2 separate regions of the Homo sapiens genome follow, and region 2 is linked to region 1. The links come from fine-mapping of genetic effects on gene expression. Tissue or cell type: prostate. Region 1 holds a variant in brackets; the other region holds the start of a gene. All regions are shown on one strand. Distances are from middle to middle.

Region 1 (5,270 bases):
CCAAATTACATTGTAGAAAAAGTTTGCTTTTTCTGATTATAAAACTTATTCTAGGGCTGGGCGCGGTGGCTCACGACTGTAATCCCAGCACTTTGGGAGGCCAAGGCGGGCGGATCACCTGAGGTCGGGAGTTGGAGACCAGCCTGACCAACATGGAGAAACTCCGTCTCTACTAAAAATACAAAATTAGCTGGGCGTGGTGGTGCAAGCCTGTAATCCCAGATACTTGGGAGCCTGAGGCAGGAGAATCGCTTGAACCCGGGAGGTGGAGGTTGCGGTGAGCCGATATCGCACCATTTCACTCCAGCCTGGGCAACAAGAGTGAAACTCCGTCTCCAAAAAAAAAAAAAAGAAAAAACAATTATTCTAAAAATTACAAGACTATAAAAATGACATGTTCATTGTAACAGATTTACGTGCTCCAAGAAGTACAAAGAAAAAGTCAAAGCTACAGCCGCTGACGGCCACAGCTGGGCCCGCCCTCCTCATGCGCATGGCTGCACACATGCTGTCCTGTTACTCATTTCCTTTTTTTTTTTTTTTTGAGACAGAGTCTCGCTCTGTCGCCCAGGCTGGAGTGCAGTGGCGCGATCTCCGCTCACTGCAAGCTCCGCCTCCCAGGTTCACGCCATTCTCCCGAGTAGCTGGGACTACAGGCACCCACCACCACGTCTGGCTAATTTTTTTTCTTTTTGTATTTTTAGTAGAGACAGGGTTTCACCTGTTAGCCAGGATGGTCTCGATCTCCTGACCTCGTGATCTGCCCACCTTGGCCTCCCAAAGTGCTGGGATTACAGGCGTGAGCCACCACGCCTGGCCATTTCTTTTTACTGAATATTATTTTGTGAACATCTTGCCATGTAAAATGTAGATCTCTGGCCGGGTGCGGTGGCTCACACTGTAATCCCAGCACTTTGGTAGTCCAAGGTGAGCAGATCACTTGAGGTCAGGAGTTTGAGACCAGCCTGGCCAACATGGCGAAACCCCGTCTCTACTAAATATACAAAACTTAGTTGGGCGTGGTAGCTCACCCCTGTAATCCCAGCTACTAGGGAGGCTGAGGCAGGAGAATCGCTTGAACCCAGGGTGCGGAGGTTGCAGTGAGCCAAGATCACACCATTGCACTCCAGCCTGGGTGACAGAGCGAGACTCTGTCTCTAAATAAATAAATAAATAAATAAATAAATAAATAAATAAATGTAGATCTTTGTTACTGCATTAAAAAACTTTTTATCATGGAATAATTCTAGATTTCTAGGAAAGCTGTAAAGGTGTAGAGAGTTCCAGAATACCGCCACAACTTCTCCCGATGACAGCATGTTCTGTCACCACATCAGAGCTAAGGAATGAACACTGACACAGTATCTGTTAACTAAAATTCTTTTGGACTTCAATAGTTTTTCCACAAATGTCCTCTCTTCCAGGATCTGACACAAGATGCATTTAGGGTATTCCTTTTTATTATTTATTTATTTATTTATTTATTTGAGACGGAGTTTCGTTCTTGTTGCCCAGGCTGGAGTGCAGTGGCGTGATTTTGGCTCACTGCAACCTCCACCTCCTGGGTACAAGCGATTCTCCTGCTTTCAGCCTCCCAAGTAGCTGGGACTACAGGCGACCACCACCACATCCAGCTAATTTTGTATTTTTAGTAGAGAAGAGTTTTCTCCATGTTGGTCAGACTGGTCTCGAACTCCCGACCTCAGGTGATCCACCCGCCTTGGTCTCCCAATGTGCTAGGATTACAGGCGTGAGCCACTGCGCCCGGCCAGGGTATTCCTTTTTAAAAACAGGGTCTCGGGCTTGGTGTGATGTTTCACGCCTGTAATCCCAGCACTTTGGGAGGCCAAGGCAGGTGGATCACGAGGACAGGAAATTGAGACCATCCTGGCTAACACGGTGAAACCCCATCTCTACTAAAAACAAAAAATTAGGGCCGGGTGCAGTGGCTCACACCTGTAATCCCAGCACTTTGGGAGGCCAAGGCGGATGGACCACAAGGTCAGGAGATCGAGACCATCCTGGCTAACACGGTGAAACCCCGTCTCTACTACAAATACAAAAAAGTAGCCGGGCGTGGTGGTGGGCGCCTGTAGTTCCAGCTACTTAGGAGGCTGAGGCAGGAGAATGGCGTGAACCCAGGAGGTGGAGCTTGCAGTGAGCCAAGATCGCGCCCACTGCACTCCAGCCTGGGCGACAGAGTGAGACTCTGTCTCAAAAAAAAAAAAAAAAATTAGCCGGGTGTGGTGGCACACACCTGTAGTCCCAGCTACTCGGGAGGTTGAGGCAGGAGAATCACTAGAACTGGGGAGGCGGAGGTTGCAGTGAGCCGAGATCATGCCACTGTACTCCAGCCTGGGCGACAGAGTGAGACTCCGTCTCAAAAATAGTTAACTAATTAATTAATTAAAAAAAA[T/A]ATATATATATAGGGTCTCATCGTTGTCACCCAGGCTGGAGTGCAGTGGTACAATCGTAGCTCACTGCAAACCTCCAACTCCTGGGCTCAGAGATACTCCTGCCTCATCAGCCTCCCAAGAAGGTGAGACTACAGGCATATACCACCGTGCTCAGCTAAGTTTAAGTATATTTTGTAGAGACAGGGTCTCACTCTGTTGTCCAGGCTGGTCTTGAGCTCCTGGGCTCAAGTGATCCTCTTTGTCTTGGTCTCCCAAAGTACTGGGATTACAGGTGTGAGACACTGCACCCGGCCTGGGTACTGTATTTTTACCAGCTGCACTCAACACCCCAAGATGTGGTCACAGCAGTGATTTACCCAACGCTTTATTTATTTATTTATTTATTTTTGAGACGGAGTCTTGCTCTGTCTCCCAGGCTGGAATGCAATGATGCAATCTCGGCTCACTGCAACCTCTGCCTGCTGGGTTCAAGCGTTTTTCCTGCCTCAGCCTCCCGAGTAGCTGGGATTACAGGCGCCTGCCATACACCTCGCTACTTTTTTTGTATTTTTAGTAGAGACAGGGTTTCACCATGTTGGCCAGCCTGTTCTTGAACTCCTGACCTCAGGTGATCCTCCTGCCTTGGCCTCCCAAAGTGCTGGGATTACAGGCGTGAGCCACCGCGCCCCACCTACCCAACACTTCAGTAACAGATGTTGAGTCGTTTCCCGGATCACATCCTGGACAATGCTGCAGAACGTCTGTGACGCAGCAGTGAGAAGGGACAGGAAAGGCACTATGGCCAAGGCCCGGGCTCGGCCTGCTCACAGCTGTGTCCTGAGATGGAGGCCAGCTCACACTGGGTCTGGAGCTGCTCTGCAATGCCCTGTCCTCAGGAACTCCCCCCGGTGTGTGCACGCGCATGCGTGTTTGTGTGTGCACATGCACAGAAGGGCTGCTCACCGTCCTCCACGTAGTCGATGGTGGAGAGATGCTGGATCCGGCTGGACACCACACTGCCCTGCCTCCGCAGCTTGGGGCGCTGAACAGGAGCCAGTGAGGAGCTGGGGTCCGAGGGCGAGCCAGTCGCACTGTCCTGGGGGCCTGCGGGCTCCGCCGCCTGGCTCAGTTCGATGCAGTACTCAATGAGACTGCTCATCAGTTCGGCCTGGGGAGGAGGGGGCAGTGTGAGGCCTGGCCAGGGCCCCCTTCCATGCCTGTTGCTGAGCCTGAAATGAGCTCTGCTCTCTGGTTGGGGAAGCAGGGGAGGGGACACACATCACTCAGGAGGGAGGGAGCAGGGAGGCAGGGGAGGTGTCCCACTTGGGTGACTGTGAAGGTGAGTCCTGGTGGATGAGGAGGGGTCTCCAGATCTGGGAGTTCAGGTGGGAAAGAAAGAACATTCTGGTCAGAAGGCACAGCCCAGGAAGGCTGACTCCATGGGCAGAAGCAGGTGGGGAGGGAGGGGGTAGGGAGCCAGCTGCTGCAGAGAGGACGAAGAGTGGGGAAGCGGGGCGGGGAGGCGGGTGGTGCTGGCTGGGAGGAAAACCTGCAGCCAGGAGGAAGGGGCGCGATGTCACCAGGGCAGGGGCGGGCGGCTCCCTGCCAGCACGTTCTTCAAAAGTGACTCCTACTCAACAGGTGTGAAGCATGAGGCACACTGACAGAAAAGATGCAGCAGCCGGGTGCCAGCGGGCACAGCTGGGCACCAAGGACAGGGCCTTCAGGGGTTTGAGGGAGTCGCAGAGGGTGTTAAAAGGGTGGCACCCCTTAGGACACAGGTATTTCCTGAGTGCCTCCCACGTGCCAAGCACTGCTGCAGGCCTGGGATAAGATGAGGCCAAGTAGACAGGAATGGCCACCTGTGCTCCTGACTGGTGGGGCTGGGTCAGATGCTGGAGTGGCCCTGCGGAGACTGGCCTGGCTCCTGCCTCTCCACAGGGCAGCTACAATCCCTCTGGGCTGGGCAGGTGGGCACCGCTGCTCGGCCCAGAAGGAAGAGCAGAGGCCTGGTGGGCTCTCCACGCTCCCTGCCCTCAGCTCAGTCCACCCACACTCCTCTCCTCACCAAGTGGACTCCACCAGCCAAAGGGCAGTGGGCTGGCGAGGGGACGGCAGCCGGTGGGGACAGAGTCCTGAGTGCAACCATAACAGGGAAGCCTACTAAGTTTCCTAGAACAAAAACTCCTGCACAGCAACATGCCTCTGAGGCTCAGGAAGCCTGCCGTTCAAATGCAGCCAAAAGAGGAAGCTCTGCTGAACATCTGTCCAAGATAAAACTCAGCAAGCCAGCGTCAGAAAGGAACTTCCTCAACCTGATGAAGCGCATCTCTGAAGAACCCACAGCAAAATCCCACTTATTCAGTGAAAGACAATGTTCTCTCTCAGGCCAGGTGCGTCAGGGACGCCTGCGCACACCTATCCATCCTACACTGGGGGTCAGAAGCACTGTCAGGCAAGGCAAGCAAGAGGCACACAGATTGGAAAGTGAGACCCAGCTGTCCCAACTCACAGACCACACGACTGTCCACATAGAAAGTCCCAGGCCAGGCCAGGTGCCGTGGCTCACGCCTGTAATCCCAACACTTTGGGAGGCCGAGGCGGGTGGATCACCTGAGGTCAGGAGTTTGAGACCAGCCTGGCCAACATGGTGAAAACCCATCTCTACTAAAAATACAAAAATTAGCTGGGTGTGATGGCAGGCTCCTGTAATCCCAGCTACTCAGGAGGCTGAGGTGAGAGAATCGCTTGAACCTAGGAGGCGGAGGTTGCAGTGAGCTGAAATCGCGCCATTGCACTCCAGCCTGGGCGACAGAGTGAGACTCCATCTCAAAAAAAAAGAAAAAAAGAAAAAAGGCAGACACAGGGGCTCAT
Region 2 (5,145 bases), 470 kb before region 1:
CTCACGCCTGTAATCCCAGCACTTTGGGAGGCCAAGGTAGGCGGATCACAAGGTCAGGAGATTGAGACCATCCTGGCTAACACGGTGAAACCCCATCTCTACTAAAAATACAAAAAATTAGCCGGGCCTGGTGGCGGGTGCCTGTAGTCCCAGCTACTCAGGAGGCTGAGGCAGGAGAATGGCGTGAACCCAGGAAGCGGAGCTGGCAGTGAGCCGAGATGGCGCCACTGCACTCCAGCCTGGGCGACAGAGCAAGACTCCGTCTCAATTAAAAAAAAAAAAAAAAAAAAGAATTCACCTATATTGTGGCATGCATCAGTACTTCATTAGTTTTTATGGCTGAATAATGTTCGACTGTGTGGATGTACTGCATCTTGTTATTCATCAGTTGACGGCTTTTGTGTTGTTTCTGCATTTGGCTCTTATATATAGTGCAGCTATAAACGCTGCGTACAGATTTGTGTGTGTGTACATATCTTTTCAATTATCCTAGGTATGTATACCTAGGAGTGAAATTGTCAGGTCATGTGATAACATTTTGAGGAACTGCCAGACCATTGTCCACCAACAGTGCATGAGGGCTCCAGTTTCTCCGTATCTTTGCCAACACTTGTTACTGTCTTTCTCGTTTTAAAGAGCTATTATTATTATTACTATTTTTGAGATGGAGTCTCGCTCTGTCGCCCAGGCTGGAGTGCAATGGCACAATCTCGGCTCATTGCAACAACTGCCTCCCGGGTTTAAGAGATTATTCTGCCTCAGACTCCCGAGTAGCTGGGATTAGAGGCACGTGCCACTACACCAGCTAATTTCTTTGTGTTTTTGTAAAGACAGGGTTTCACCATGTTGGCCAGGCTGGTCTTGAACTCCTGACCTTGTGATCTGCCCACCTTGGCCTCCCAAAGTGTTGGGGTTACAGGCGTGAGCCACCGCGTCGGGCCTATTATTATTATTATTATTTTAAGATGGAGTCTCCCTCTGTCACCCATGGAGTGCAGCAGTGTGATCTGGGCTCTCTGCAACCTCCACCTCCCGAGTTCAGGTGATTCTCCTGCCTCAGGCTCCTGAGTAGCTGCGACTACAGGCACGCGCCACCACGCCTGGCTAATTTTTATATTTTTAGTAGAGACGGGGTTTCACCATGTTGTCCAGACTGGTCTCGAACTCCTGACCTCAGGTGATCCACCTGCCTCGGCCTCTCAAAGTGCTGGGATTACAGGCTTGAGCCACCGCGTCCGGCCCCTAAAGAGCTATTATTTAACCTTCTGCCCCAGCAGCTGGGAGGGATGGTGGTGGCAGAGTGGCGAGGAGCGGGCACTGCGCAGTTCACCTGAGCCCCAGGCGCTCGCCGCGGGACCCACCAGCACGTCCCCTCCTCGGCAGACTCCCTCCCCGGGGTCACGTGGAGGGCGACTGCGGGGATAAGCAGGGATGGCAAGGGGAAAGGAAGGGCGGGCCCCAGGCGGGGGATCCCCGGACACGCAGTGCTTTCCCGCCTGGCCCCGCCCAAAGACGTGGGCAAACAGAGGCCACGCCCTTCCTGGGAGCCAGCCCCGCCCATACTCCGCCCCAAGGACACGCCCCCACTTCGGGCGGAGGCGGAAACCGGGCGGGGGACGCTGGTGCGAGGAGGTCGAGGAGGCGCCTTGGCACCCGACTCTGGCATCCCGCACGTCCGACATCAGCCCTGCCCTCCTTCTCAGGGGCTTCCATTCATTTTGTGCCAAAAGGGAACTGCCGCCCTCGCCCCCAAACTTGTAGCTTTGTGGATGGAGGGTGTGGGGGAGGCCGTGTGTAGTGAAAGGACCACCCGGCTGAAGACGGTCCTGGGGGTGGAGGGCAGGAGGGAGCGAGAAGGACAGTTCTGCTCCTGGGAGCCTCTCGTTCCTGGGCGAGGGTCTGGGGACCCTGGATGAAGTTTTAGGATCTTTTACAATGACGGTCTGGGGCAGAGAATAAAATTTTGCAGGGAGCAGATTGAGGGTCTGGAGGACTGGGTTAGGTGGGCTCTAGGTACCCAGGACGATCTCGGGAGGCGCACAATGAGAATCTGGGGGCTCCAGGATTACGGTGTGGGTGCACAGGATGAAATTCTGGGGGCGCAGATTAGGTAGGACCTAGGTGAGCAGGATGACATTTTTGGTGAGCGTCTGGGGGCCCCCGGGTGAGTCTGGGGGCCTGGCATCAAGGTCGGGGCCCCAGGATCGAGCACTGGGGGACCCTGGTCCGGCGCCGGGAGGCGGCTCCTGGCGGCGCCGCGGGGGACCGGGTAGGGGCCTGTGGCTGGCCGGGGGCGGAGAAGCGGGGGGTCGGGGTCCCTCCCCCTGGCGCTGGCTCAGGAATCCGCCGAAGGGCGGGCGGAGGCGCCGGGGTGGGCCGCGCCGCGGCAGGCGGGCGGGCGGGGGGCGCTTCCTGGGGCCGCGCGTCCAGGGAGCTGTGCCGTCCGCCCGTCCGTCTGCCCGCAGGCATTGCCCGAGCCAGCCGAGCCGCCAGAGCCGCGGGCCGCGGGGGTGTCGCGGGCCCAAGTGAGTGGCTGTGACCGTCCGTGGGGGAGGGCGTGGGCCGGAGTCTCGGCCGAGTCCGCGGCAGCGTAGCGCCCACAGAGGCCCGCGCTCCTCGGCCTTCGCCGCAGGGGCGCGGGGCGGGGGCGGGGTGGCCGGGGCGGGTGGGCCTGGGACCCGGGCCTGGGACCTGGGCCTGTGAGGAGTCGGCCCCCAGCCCTGGGAGGCCCCGAGGCCCAAGCACGGTCCTGAGCGGGCAGTGGCGGGGGCTGGGCTCGGGCTCCCGGTACAGGGAGTTGAGGTGCCGCGGGCAGAGGCCCCTGACCCGTGTCCACCATCTCGCAGCCCCAGGATGCTCCCCTGCGCCTCCTGCCTACCCGGGTCTCTACTGCTCTGGGCGCTGCTACTGTTGCTCTTGGGATCAGCTTCTCCTCAGGATTCTGAAGAGCCCGACAGCTACACGGTGGGGACAGTGAGGGCCGCTGGCCTGGGACAGGAAGGGTAGGGAGGAAGAGACCGGGACCCAGGGTGACTGCTGCCGGGGAAGTCTTCCTCCCCTGGCTGGTGGAGAGCTGGGGGCCATTGTTTGGAGCAGGCCGGAGGGTGGCCAGGCTCAGGCCCTAGTCTTGGCCTGGCCAGTTGGAGGAGATCTTAGGGTGACCACTGGCCACTTCTGGTTCCCTTCCAGGAATGCACAGATGGCTATGAGTGGGACCCAGACAGCCAGCACTGCCGGGGTGTGTGTGCCTGGGGGACCAAACACCCCCAGGAACCCGGAAAGGGATTGATAGCTGCTTTCCAAGGGACAGCCCCACCTCCAAGAACTGCCGTGGGAGCCCAGCAGCCCGTTCTATGCCCAGCTCTGCTACACAGAGGCCAGCTCTGGCTCTCTGGAGGCCAGTTGAGCTAGGGGTGGCCTCATCCTCTCCCAGAAACCCAGGAAACCTTGTCCCTACCCCTCAGAGGAGCTGGATCCTGTACGCCTTCTCTGAACCACTCTCCTGTCCCAGCTCTTTGTCTCATCACAACCTGGGAGGGTAGCGTCCCCAGGGGTGGGTAAGGAGGCCCCCCATCTTGGGCTGAGCTAGGGCTAGGGCCGTGGGGAGGGATAGAGACCCACTTGCAGGCCGAGAATGAGGGCAACAGTGGGAACAGCTGCCCCATCTCCAGCCTTGGCCAACCCTGGGGAGGGGTCCTGAGCAGGCAGACTTAGCTTGTTGAGCAGAGTGGGAAGGCTTTGCTGGGGCCACACATCTCAGAGAAGGCCGAGCTGGGTTCCTGCCTCCGCTCCCTCCAGGGCCAGCCCAGGAGACTGGCTGTGCCCAGCAGGCCCCTCTCTGCAGATGTCAACGAGTGTCTGACCATCCCTGAGGCCTGCAAGGGGGAAATGAAGTGCATCAACCACTACGGGGGCTACTTGTGCCTGCCCCGCTCCGCTGCCGTCATCAACGACCTACACGGCGAGGGACCCCCGCCACCAGTGCCTCCCGCTCAACACCCCAACCCCTGCCCACCAGGCTATGAGCCCGACGATCAGGACAGCTGTGTGGGTGAGTGGGGACTGCTCTGGTGCCTGGCTTCCAGTCCTCTCACCAGGCGTCTTAAACTCAGACCTCATGTTCCTCCCCAGCTCAAAAGGGCCACTGGTGATGTCCACACCCTCATCCAGACACTCATGTTGTTTAGGACCTGCCGCAGGTGGCCCCAGCTTGTGTGCCACTGCTCCAGCCAGCTCCGGGCCCCTCCCCTCGGTTGCTGCAGAGACACTGCAGGAAGTCTGCCTTCCAGTGTCTGTCCCCTGGGAGCCACAGGCCTTGGAGGAAGGACAGTCCAGGAATCAGTGTTGCTGGGGATGTTTGGACAGGACCTTATTTCCTGTGCAACCCCCAACATGTGGTTTTAGAGGTTAGGGGTGCCTTTCCTGATGGCTCCAGGCTGGTGAACTCTTACGCGTGCTGTTGAGAGAACCGAATACAAGTGTTGGAACTATCTGTCATGTTGGGTGGTGTGCGGGATCCCAGGCAGGGGCTGAGTGGTGTCTCTCGCAGATGTGGACGAGTGTGCCCAGGCCCTGCACGACTGTCGCCCCAGCCAGGACTGCCATAACTTGCCTGGCTCCTATCAGTGCACCTGCCCTGATGGTTACCGCAAGATCGGGCCCGAGTGTGTGGGTGAGTCCAGGAAGCAGCTTCTGTAGTCCCGGCTTTGTGTCCCTGGTCTGGCCCTTGCCCTAGCACCTGACCCCCATTCAAGCCAGGCTTCACCCCCGGCCCCTGCCACCTCACCCTCCGTCATCAGACACAGAGGACTGTAGCGGGGAGTGTTTGGGAGGTGTCCTGGCTGACCCTGCCTAATTCAGCTCCTCGGACACAGGATTATGGGTGGTGAAGCCTTGAGTCCCAGCCGGCTCGAGCCCACCTGCCCTCTGCCCTCTGCCCTCCGCCCTCCTTCTCCTGCCTCTATCCCTAGACATAGACGAGTGCCGCTACCGCTACTGCCAGCACCGCTGCGTGAACCTGCCTGGCTCCTTCCGCTGCCAGTGCGAGCCGGGCTTCCAGCTGGGGCCTAACAACCGCTCCTGTGTTGGTGAGGCTGGGCTGGGCCAGGCTCCTGGGTCCTGGGCAGGGAGGTGTGAGGTGGGGGC

What was found. PIP is the estimated chance that this variant, and not a neighbour inherited with it, causes the effect.
Region 2: it holds the start of EFEMP2, and the variant in region 1 is fine-mapped to the expression of EFEMP2 in prostate (GTEx, PIP 0.98).

The regions. Positions count from the first base shown.
Region 1 is chr11:65,403,158-65,408,427 of GRCh38, reverse strand. It overlaps FRMD8 (FERM domain containing 8), which reads right to left. Exons shown (of 11, transcript NM_031904.5): 10 at 3,360-3,564. Among named protein-coding and RNA genes, the nearest start is that of NEAT1, 17 kb to the left of the region's middle. RefSeq lists an enhancer at 3,681-4,180. The variant T/A (reference allele first, on the strand shown) is at 2,417.
Region 2 is chr11:65,870,063-65,875,207 of GRCh38, reverse strand. It overlaps EFEMP2 (EGF containing fibulin extracellular matrix protein 2), which reads left to right and starts at 2,408. Exons shown (of 11, transcript NM_016938.5): 1 at 2,408-2,525; 2 at 2,847-2,964; 3 at 3,190-3,238; 4 at 3,845-4,051; 5 at 4,550-4,672; 6 at 4,971-5,087. The coding sequence starts at 2,854. RefSeq lists a silencer at 1,346-1,405.